Linked DNA regions of Homo sapiens. The protein of the gene in region 3 purifies or fractionates together with the protein of the main gene of each other region. This does not show direct contact. Each region holds a gene or a part of one and is shown on either strand. Other genes may lie near its edges. The genes, in order: EPB41L3, PPP1R2 and GSK3B.

Region 1 (3,755 bases), on a different chromosome or scaffold from region 3:
AAGCAAGATATATGTGAAAGCACTCTTGTTACATAGGTAATTATCTCAATAATCATATTGATAATTACTCTTTTTTCACATTTTTTTAAAATTTCAGTAGCTTTTGAGATACAAGCAGTCGGTTTTTGGCCACATGGCTGAATTGTATAGTAGTGAAGTCTGAGATTTTAGTGCACCTGTCACCTGAGTAGTGCACATTGTACCCAATATGTAGTTTTTTATCCGTCACCACCACCCCCGCCACTGTCTGCCTTCTGAGTCTCCAGTGTCCATTATATTACTCTGTGCCTTTGCATACCCATAGCTTAGCTCCCACTTATACATGAGAACGTATGGTATTTGGCTTTTCATTCCTCAGTTACTTCATGTAGAATAATGACCTTCAGCTCCATCCAAGTCACTTCAAAATACATGATTTCATTCATTTTTATGACTGAGTAGTATTCCATGATGTATATATACCACATTTTATATTCATAATTATTCTTACAGGCTTTTGTGAGCTAGCCTAGGAAGTTAATTGCCATTGTGTGTCTTCTAAGAGTTTCCAGAATACCGAACTTAGAGCCAGCCCTTTTGAATAAAATAATTACCAGGACTGTTTCGAGCTGAATTAAGATATTGAAATATCGATGTTAACATTGAAGCTTTTCTTTCTGGTTTATCCTATTGACTCTTGTTTCTCCTTTAGAGTGTCTCTATTACCTATTTCTATATGTTATCAGTATTTGAGGAACTTTGTAGAATCGCACTTTTTTTTTCCTGAATATCATCCACTTTGTTCAGTGACGTGCACCCCAGGGAACACATTTGTTGTGAATGTTGTTTTCCTTATGACCTTTAGTGTGATAATGACTGCTGAGAAGACAGAAGACAATTGTGAAATCAGTGTACTAATGTCATGCTGTCTCTTTCTCCCTGCCCAAAAGTGATGTTAGTATGTGTTGTCTCTCACTCCTTGCGGTCCTGCCAGCTCTAGTATGTTTTCTGCTGCTGTTGAGCTGGGTGGCACAGCTGCATGTTGCAACATAAACTGCTTTTTTGCAAGGTTGCATCTCACAGAGAATGGCCTAACTGGTCCATTAGGAAGTTGTGTCTCATATGAGCTTTTTCAACGGTGTAAAGAGATATAAAATGTCTTAGTGAAGATATTTTAGTGACATAGTTTAGCTATCGAAAGCATTTCAGAGAGGATTTCATTTCAGAATCCTTTCTTTTATTTACGTTTTTAAATTCCTAAAATAATAATGTAGATATTTTGTCTGTGATTAGTTACTGTGTATTTGAAAAGCAACATTTATAAGTTTTAATAAATTTTATATCTAAAACCTAAAATAATGAGTACCAACTTTTAAAACTTAATTAAGCATCTTTTCACTAAGACGTTTTAGCTGGGATGAAAGGCTCTGTCTTATTCTCTTGAGTTTGCATGTTTTGCATTTGCATGAATTTCATTTAGCAACATTCATTGTGTTTTCCCAAAATATTAGAGATGAGTAAATGTATATGCATATTATGGTAGTCTGTTTAAAATGCAGTAGAAATGAAAACATTTCTGTACTTTAGGTGAATGGAATTGCCATCTGATTTTTATAATCTCTACCAAGATGGTTAATATTTGTTATTACCCATGGAGCTTTTATACTGTAAGAGTGATAGACTTTTCAACATTAATAATAATAATATGAAAACCAATTCAGTGCTCCTTGGTGAATGGCACTTCCAAAGAGCCAAGTGTATTAGAGCAATTGTGTACTGCAAAGACTGCTGTTAGGTGTGGAATTGGCCACTACGAGACTGGTGCCAGTGCCAGCCAATGGTGATAATATGCCCAGCGGCAGCCTCGCCTCATGACCCTCCACTCACCTCCACACTTACACACATCCTCAGCAGAGAGTCTGAGGATAGATGAAATTCCAAGACATGAGCATTTCACGAATTTTAAAGCACTCATATAGGAAATACAGGAAGGTCATGCTCTCATGAAGGTCCCTGCAGCACTGATTTGTTTTTTCAAGGCAAACCTGGTATTTTGTGTTGGTATTTTTTTTTTCAGTAAAGATATAGTTGGTATTGTTCATGTGTCTTCTGACCTAACTATTTTGGATTTTATTTCTTTAATTGTATTTGCTTTTAGCATCAGTGAATGAAAACCATGAAATATACATGAAGGATTCTATGTCTGCTGCAGAGGTTGGTACTGGCCAGTACGCCACAACAAAAGGCATCTCTCAGACCAACTTGATCACCACTGTGACTCCGGAGAAGAAGGCTGAGGAGGAGCGGGACGAGGAAGAGGACAAACGGAGGAAGGGGGAAGAAGTCACGCCCATCTCGGCCATCCGGCACGAGGGAAAGGTATAGCTCCCAGACTGCCTGCAAGAGCTTGCTCCAGCTTTTAAGAATGACTAAATGATGCTGAGGCTGTAAACCAGGAATGTGCTCAGATTTAGGATAAATCATATGTCAGCACTGGTCACATTCATATGTCAATTTTTAAATTATGATTGCTGTTTCAACATTTTTTCTCTGAAAGGTTCATTCATAGCTCTTTGAAAATTTTTATTTTAATAACTTGTGTGCTATGTAAGACTTTCAATAGCTGTCCTGTATGTGTATCTTAAAAATACTTTTGGTGGCGTATTACACTTTTCTGTTTGGGCTCACATTTCAGAACTGTCACTAAAGCTGTTTTCTTTGTTTCTGGCCCCATTCTCCTACCCAAGTACAGCATATTTTTCTAGATATACAATTATCATATTGCCATTCTTCTGACTGTAAGTACATGGAGTGACCACAGCCTACATATTTATACTTACGCCTAATCAGCAGAGTAGTGACTGGCCATGTTTTGAAAAGGGATCTTAAGGCAGAAAGTTGCAACAGGAGATAAAAAGGGAATTTGGCAGCAGCTTCTTCTTTCAGTGTTGAATTCATTAAACTTTGTAACATTGTTTCACCCCAAATTAAATATCTTTTTTAACACCATTTTTAAACACTATGTTTTTTTCTGGTGATCCAGCACTACAAAGCAACTTTTCAGAAAAATAATTTAAAAGTCAAAAAACCCTTCAGGAGGCTTATACCTAATAATAAGGGAAAAACAGAGTGGCTCCTGGCCTGTACAGAGCATAGAGTAAGAGGAAATAGCAGAATGAAAATGCTCATAATAACCCATGGGTTATCCTAAAATTTGAGTAAATTTGATTCACGAGTGATCTTTTGTACATGGGCTCTTCAAATAGAGATGGAGAATCACTACCCCGAATTCTATGGAAAGTGTTCCTTTTGATGAGAATTTAGCAGTGACATCTTAACATAGACAAATAATTTTTGTAGTTATGCTAAAATATTACAAATGGCCCAATCCATCATCTTTTATTTTTTGGGATAAGATTATTTATTTGGCAAACACAAAATTAAGCAGAGAGTAGGAAATAATGGCAGGGATATTTCGATAACTTTTGCTGTTAAAATGTGCTTTGTTCTAAATTTTGTTTTTACACTCTTCCTGTCTGTTCAGTCAAGGAAGGCTTTAAAGGGGACAGAAAAGAATATAATCCACCCAAAAAACAAATATGTGGTTCTTCTTCTTAGTTATTCTAACATTTTATAAACTCGCCATGCCAACATAAGATTCCCATGGATGTATAAGTATTGAAGAAGTGACACATCAATGTAAGTGATTTTTAGTTTTGCTCCCAAGATAAGGCCGGACATTTTCACTTTATTTGCTTTTAAAAGACCACCAGTTT
Region 2 (3,755 bases), about 76 Mb from region 3:
GTCTGTACATTCAGGAATAATCATATCACTGGTTACATACAATTCTCATGCAAAGAAAACCCTCAAAAAACAAACAAAAAAAACCCTCAGTTAGTTGTTTTCTTAAGTCTAATTAATCCAAACTAATAATAGCCATTTAATTAGCAATCTGTAAATCAGAGAGGTATAGAAATTCAGCAGCTAAACTGTATTTCCCACCTATAGCACTGCTGCTACTCAAACTATTTTCTTCACGTATTAGAAGAATTCATAGGCATTGATGGTCAAAATAAGAATTTCAACATAGCAGCAAATGACAGAAGAGTGAGAGAAAGAGCTCCTAATGTGGTGACAGTCTTAATGATCCTTTAAAAGGTAGAAGATTGTGTGCGTATGTGTGGAAAGGAGTAGGAAAGAAAAGCAGGAGGTTAAGACAGGTATTTAAAGGGAATGGCGAGATAGCTACATTAGAATATTTATTTTTTTAAAAAACTGCTCTGAAGTCTGCCCAGTGTACCAAAAACATTAAAAAACAAAAACAAACAAAAACCCCCCAAAAACAAAAAACAGAGCAGACATTGGTGAAAGTTTAACCTGATAATTTATTTGTGGGGAAAAAAGCTAGTTTTGATGAGAAAAAGTTCAGTCCTTTCCTTGTAAACACAAAGAAACTCAACAGGAATTTTAAAAATAGTAGGTCAGAAAATGCAACAGTAACTCTTATAATTCTTTTCAATTAAACAGACAAATCAAGTTGAAGACAAGTGTTAAAATACTATTCAGCCTAAATATTTATCAGTCTATATATCCTGTTGTTCAATTGGCTTTTGATTTTTAAAAAAATCAAATCAATAAACTTTGTAAGAGCTACCACATTTCAAGTGATGAAAATAAATTAGTTCCCCCCCAAAGATATTGTTTAACTTCTAAAGCATAAAAAGCTCTATAATATCTTATACAAATTAACCAGTGTTTTTACAAAAGTAATGCAGTTTTGGACTGATGATATTACACTGTATTTGTGGTAAAGTACTAGGCACAAGAATATATATATCGATTAGGCATTTTCAGTCTAATCAGTCTCTAAGTTTATCATTTAATTCTTGGCAATATATAATAACTGGTATGCATTTTGGTACTTAAGTCATGAATTGTGAAGAACAAGAAGCAACGTACTATAGTCACAGGGTTTACATCTAACAAACAATTGCAGTGTTGAACAAATCTCGTCTATGAACTTCGTAATTTGTTTTGCTGTTGGTCACTTGGAGTAGATCCTGCAAAGATAAAAGAAAAAGTCAACATAATTTGTTATATGTTGTCAACCCTGGCTAAAGTTCCCTTCTATTAGCATGCATGACAAGCAAATATAAAAATTTTAAAAACAAATAAGGTATATTTCATGTAGGCTGATTTAGACTGAAATTGAAGAATCTATACACTCCCCTAAATAGTCTAAAGAACAGAAGTGTCTACTTGCTGATAAAACAAACAGGTTTCAGATTGAACATTTCTGTAAGTCACAGGTGGAAAGGTAAGAGTTTACGACAACTCCAATATCCAGAGCTATAAAAAGATACATATTTATTACCTGAAAGCTATAAAATATCACCTAAGAGTCCAAACATGTCATTTTCTCCAATGAATTGTGTGAATGGGGGAGGAAAGGGGGAAGGGAGGAGACTGGCACTGTCCCAAAACTAATGGGTTCTATAGAACTTAGAGATCTGAAAAGCTGGTAAAATGTTAAGGGCCCAAAAAGGGTAGGGGGTAAATAAGGTACTTATTTCCCTAAGTCTTATCCTATTCTTGTGGGTTTTATAATGCTAAGCAGGATATACTCCTTTGCAAGGTGTACTTCATCTCCAGTGAAGAAAAATCAGGCACTGACCTAATACAAAATTTTAATCCTCCATTAAACTTAAACAAAAAATATATTTATGTACTAAATATGTGAAATGTAATATCTTATAAGCAGAGACGGACAAAATGCCATAGTTATTTTTCAAAAGAAATGGCGTTAAAACAAACAAACAAAAAACGCTGCCTCTATAACAAAAAATAAAATAAAAATAAAAATGGATAATAAAAACATGCCACAGCTACTATGTAAGATGAAGTTTGCTCAAGTTAAATATAAGTTAAACAGACTATGGGATATATAATGGAAATGAAAGGCTATATGAAATAGACTAAAAGGTTGAAGCATATTACGGAATAACAAAAAGTACTGTAATCCTGACACTATGAGACAGCAACTCATCAGGCTGTATCATAGAATTATTCATATTTAATACTATGCTTACCAAAATGGTAATACAATAATTATTTAATTTCCTAAGACTTAACCATTCTGGGCACCACAAATAACATCAGTTACGCCTCCACTGAAAAGTATGAAGTTTGTAAGTACAAGGAGTAGGTGGTGGGCACAAAAAATCTCCATTAGTGATGCAGAAGATTCACTTCATTAAATACCAGAGTAACAGTTCATAAAAAATAAATAAAACCTATTTCCTATGACAGATCAGGAGTTGCTAGGCTGCAGGGGCTGGGTGTCTAAGACTTAAAAAAAAAATAAAAACAAAAACAGTTAAATAACTTGTCAATCCAACAGTCAAAAGAATCCGTATTGGAAAGATATGACATACTTTGTATCTAACGGGATGTAAAACCAAATCTTCCATACTAAAAACATGTTTCAGGCTGGGCGCGGTGGCTCATGCCTGTAATCCCAGCACTTTGGGAGGCCGAGGCGGGCGGATCACAAGGTCAGGAGATTGGGACCATCCTGGCTAACATGGTGAAACCCCATCTCTACTAAAAATACAAAAAATCAGCCAGGCGTGGTGGCAGGCGCCTGTAATCCCAGCTACTCGGGAGGCTGAGGCAGGAGAATGGCGGGAACCCAGGAGGCGGAGCTTGCAGTGAGCCGAGATCACGCCACTGCACTCCAGCCTGGGTGACAGAGCGAGACTCTGTCTCAAAAAAAAAAAAAAAGTTTCATTTAAAAATTTTAAATTTTAGATCGTTATGACAAATACAACATGACCTAAAATATTCAAAACAAAATATAGCTTAATATGAAGACAAACATCCTTGCCTAAAGGCAAGTAAACCATAAGAAAGCCATATAATAAAACATATGGTCTAAAATCAAATCAACTCTAGGTATAAAAACTTTATTATTCTGAAATTGGCCATGCGGGTTAAAACTTTAGAAACATTTGGTATAATAAAGCGAATCTCAGCAAAATTTTCTGTTTTTTCACAAGTTTAAAGCAAAATAAAGTACATTATCTTAGGCATAGACCATTACAAAAGTCTCAGTGACATTTTCCAAACATCTAACCTTGATTTGATTCTTCCGTATTCATGCTTTCTCCATCTGCAGTCTCTAACATTTCTTCATCTTCATCATCATCATGTAGGTCTTTTGAAATTAATTGTCTGGCTAGTTTGATATTGAGTCCTTCATTGTAGTGAAGCTTCCTTTTCATTTCAAATTGTCGCTTTTTTTCTATAAGATGCAAAATGTAAACTTAGGAAGTTTGAGCTCAAGGATTGGCCCATGCCTGTTTTATAAATAAAATTTTATTGAAACAGTGATGCTCATTTGTTTTTGTCATGCTTAAGGCTGCTTTTGTGTTCAATGGCAGAGTTGAGTAGTTCGTAATAGAGACCACTGGGCCCTGCAAAATTTAAAATATTTACTATCTGGCATTCATCTCAATGGAAGAACAAGAATATATCCAGCCATTAGAAATTATATTTGT
Region 3 (3,755 bases):
TGGAAGCTGCACCTCTTGGGGCTACACAATGGAATAAAATCATTGGAAAGAACAAGAAGTGGTATTGATATCTTGTTCTGTATAACAAAGATTAATGTTTCCCTAATTAGAGGAATGGAAATGGTGATGTGACTACATATTGCAGCGGCAAAATAGTAGGGTGAAGGAAGAGGGTTGGGTACTGAAATAAAGACCACACACTTGTGAATTTTAATTTCATTTCCAGGCTAACCTACTTTTTATTTAATGCAAATTACAGTACCAGTTAACTATTTCCAAACCAAGTCACATAGAACAAAATGTATTTACAAGGGAATGGGGAAAGGGAAAAAAAACATTGAGCATACTTTTCACAAAAAAGTTTATATTTAAAATGAAAAAAAAATCAGTCACAGAGGCATTCAAGTAGTAATAATGTTATACAGATTTTGCTTTTCCTTTATATCAAGACAGATTTGCACAAGTGTTTGCAATAGTTTGTATACAACCCACAGTCCTTTATATATATATATATATATATATAATAAATTTTGTTTTTTAGGTTTGTTTTTAAGATGGAAGTGGTCACGCTAATTGGTATGTGTACAGGCCCAAGTGATCCATCGGCAACACATTTATAAATGCAAATTTTACAGGCAAGCAGATTTTCATACAACTATCTGTATCTGCCTGTAGACAGATATAGTTAAGGAAAAAAAAACTTAAAAATTAACACAAGGAAGTCTACTTTGTCAAGCTAACCCCTTATGTACTGGTTGTCATTTTGCTTTTATTGCAGAGGTGCAAAACGGAGCAACAAACTTGAATAAAACGGCATAACCCTTGTGAAAATAATCCAAACCCCAGGGATTACTTTCAAAGCCTCTCAAAGGTAGATCTCAGTCTGGGACTCTACTGTGCTTCTAGTTGTCTCTTTTATTTTCAGTGGCTCAGGTTTCTACCAGAAAAGACAGATTTTATTGTAAAGCATACCTACTTTTCCACACAGGGGAGAAAAGTGTTTGGCTCTGTGATTAGATGATCACTAACATGAACAGTAGGAATCAGATACAATTTCAGTTGAAAAGAAAGAAAACCCCCCAAATTCCTGGGGATCTGGCATTGGCCAAACTTCCTTTGGAAGATTCCAAAGTTAAATCCTTTAAAAAGGAAAGGGAAAAATAGATGAAATGCCAGTGTCTTCATATCCACAGGGATAGAGAATACTCCTCTCAGAAACCTTTGCATTGGTGCAGACAAGATGACTGGTTAGGCATACATTGTTAAAACATAAACCAAAAATGTGTCTAAAAATTAAGAGGACTTAAAAAAAATGACACAGCATGTCACTGGAAAGAAGGTGCAGTCTTCTGCCTTGCTGGAATGAACACACGATGTTTCAAAAATAGTAACCTTTGGTTTGGTAGTTTTTTCTTCTATTCAAGACATTTTATATGGACTACTTTGAGGCAAAACATTCTATTTTTCTTTCAAAAAAGGCCTTCGTGTTGGGCACACAGTAAGAATTAAACTGATTTTTTTTAAAAGAAATTAAAATGATATTTCATTGAGCAAGGGTAGAGATGGCGGGAGGGAGGAAATGGGCTAAGAGTTCCCTTGTTAAAACAACAGTCCTCTATTGGCACGGTGGCACTCCGTGCAGTAACTGCTAGTAATTGCACTATAGCATTTTAGACCACTGACGTATCAAAACCTGATACTATTAAGAAACTTCGATTTATAAAAAAACAATTCTCTGTCACTCTCTCATTTGGGAGGGAAGTAGATAAAAGAGGAGAGAGAGAGAGCATGGAAGGCTCCCAGAATCTGCTGTTTTTAAGACCCATGGTTAGGGCTTGTGGAAGAGACGAGCAAAATTTAATCTATTCGATATCCTCCAGCTCTAGGGCTCCCTGGTGCTACACTAAGTCCCTGAATGGACTAAGTATGAAATGAAACCGGTCTCACTGCTACCGAGGAGGAAAGACATTCAGAACCAAAACAAAGGCAGGGCTTCAACGAAATGAAATTACGAATATGATTTCCTCTTCCCACTCCTGAGTATGGTATCACTGAAACTTAACTGTGGAAGGGGCAAAGATACTGTTATGAGTGAGTTATTATTTCAAAGGGAAAGGGGGTGGACAGGGAGACATGGATAAAGGAAACCAATTAAAATTTAAAAAAGAACAAATTAAAAAAAAAAACACATGGAAGCGAAGGCACTCCAAACTATATAGATACACTATACATTGCTAGAGTTATTGTTACAATAATACAGGCCGGTACCTACTGTACAGAGTTAAAACTATATGGCTTTAAAAAGCTCGTCTACATTTTGTCTGATTATTAAACAGAATCACTGCCCTGAACAGTAACTTTTTGCTCATTAATAACAGTTCCTGGGTCCACATATTTACATACAAAACAATAAAACTTAAATTTAAAAACACAGAAAGAAAATATAATGTACAAGCTTGAATTTGGTGAGGAGCTTTTTATTATTATTATATACAAAAAGATATTCAGAGACCTGGATCTCACTTGTATAAAAGAGTTCTGTGATCCCACCATGATCCTTGAGAAAGAAAAATCACACATCTCAGCACACACACACACACACACACACGCACACATGCACACACAATGAAATGAGAGAAAAGCGTGACTTTTCTCTCTTCTTTTACCCCAGTTGTGGGGGGCAACCTGTTTCCTAAAATAAGCACTGATTTTTATGGACTCTGGGGAGTATACCACGTCCAGAGCAGTGTCTGCATCCAAACGCTTGCTGGGCAGTTGGATCTGAATGCAGGTCCATTTCTCTATCACAGACCTGCCTTTTCAGATTCTTTATAAATTCTGTCTGAAAATGGTCTATCAACGCCACTACCTTTAAGGAGTTATGCTGCCAAATACTTTGATTTCAGACTTCTTTCAAATCTTAGCTTTCAGAAGCACTTTATAAAACATAAAATTCAATTTGTTTGATTTGGTTTGACTGAGCATGTTTCCTTTCTCATAAACTCTGATATATCCAGAGGTTTGTGAAACCCCTTTTGTGGCCCAAGACCTCAGCTAAACAGCGAGTGAAAACCAAGATGGCTCACAGTTGTCTTTCTGGGTACTGGTTCACTTCAGCAGGCAGGACAACTCTCTTGGAGAGTCACACACACAGTTAAGGAGCAGGACAGGGTGCTAGGGCCTGCAGGAGGGCTGCCAACAGACTCCACTTCCGAACCCTCTGGAGGACGAGACCCATAAAGTGACCTAAGGTGGCAATGAGGAGGGTGAGGGCAAGTTACACACAACCATGGGCTCAGCTCTGCAGCCCTACAGTTACCAGCTAACCTTGGAAGGCATGTGGGGAAGGAGCGGGTAGGAGGGAAAGGCGGCCATCACTCAAGTGATCTTTAAATGTAAAGTACAACTGATTGTGCCTTAAAGATTCATAGGTCAAGTAATGGCCCATAAGCACCAAGGTGACTAAAGTTCATTTTAGAGTATATAAGGCCCACATAGATGCCAACCTTAAAAGTATAAAACAAACTAGTCATGAAAATCTATTTCCTCACGGCAAACATAGTCCTTCAATTCTCCTTGCTTTCCAAGGAATATTGCTTTTTCTTCAAAAAGAGAGACTGATTCTTAACATCGTTCACTGATACACAAAGAAAACAGACACAAAAACTCTTAACTGGGTGTGGGGGAAACATTCTTCTCATGCTTCAACCAGTCAATTTTGATACTGTAGACAAAAAAAAAGGCAGTATTGAATA

The links.
Region 1: the proteins of GSK3B (region 3) and EPB41L3 purify together in Homo sapiens (affinity purification with mass spectrometry; 4 studies listed by BioGRID and IntAct, with this or other methods). This does not show direct contact.
Region 2: the proteins of GSK3B (region 3) and PPP1R2 purify together in Homo sapiens (affinity purification with mass spectrometry; 6 studies listed by BioGRID and IntAct, with this or other methods). This does not show direct contact.

Annotation. Positions count from the first base shown.
Region 1 is NC_000018.10:5,418,314-5,422,068, reverse strand, and holds part of EPB41L3 (band 4.1-like protein 3), read left to right. Parts: intron 1-2,137; coding exon of another isoform or gene 2,138-2,191; coding exon 2,192-2,358; intron 2,359-3,755. UniProt on the Homo sapiens protein: Tumor suppressor that inhibits cell proliferation and promotes apoptosis. Modulates the activity of protein arginine N-methyltransferases, including PRMT3 and PRMT5.
Region 2 is NC_000003.12:195,515,687-195,519,441, forward strand, and holds part of PPP1R2 (protein phosphatase inhibitor 2), read right to left. Parts: intron 3,500-3,755; coding exon 3,332-3,499; intron 1,257-3,331; coding exon 1,210-1,256; 3' UTR 1-1,209. UniProt on the Homo sapiens protein: Inhibitor of protein-phosphatase 1.
Region 3 is NC_000003.12:119,821,745-119,825,499, forward strand, and holds part of GSK3B (glycogen synthase kinase-3 beta), read right to left. Parts: 3' UTR 1-3,755. UniProt on the Homo sapiens protein: Constitutively active protein kinase that acts as a negative regulator in the hormonal control of glucose homeostasis, Wnt signaling and regulation of transcription factors and microtubules, by phosphorylating and inactivating glycogen synthase (GYS1 or GYS2), EIF2B, CTNNB1/beta-catenin, APC, AXIN1, DPYSL2/CRMP2, JUN, NFATC1/NFATC, MAPT/TAU and MACF1.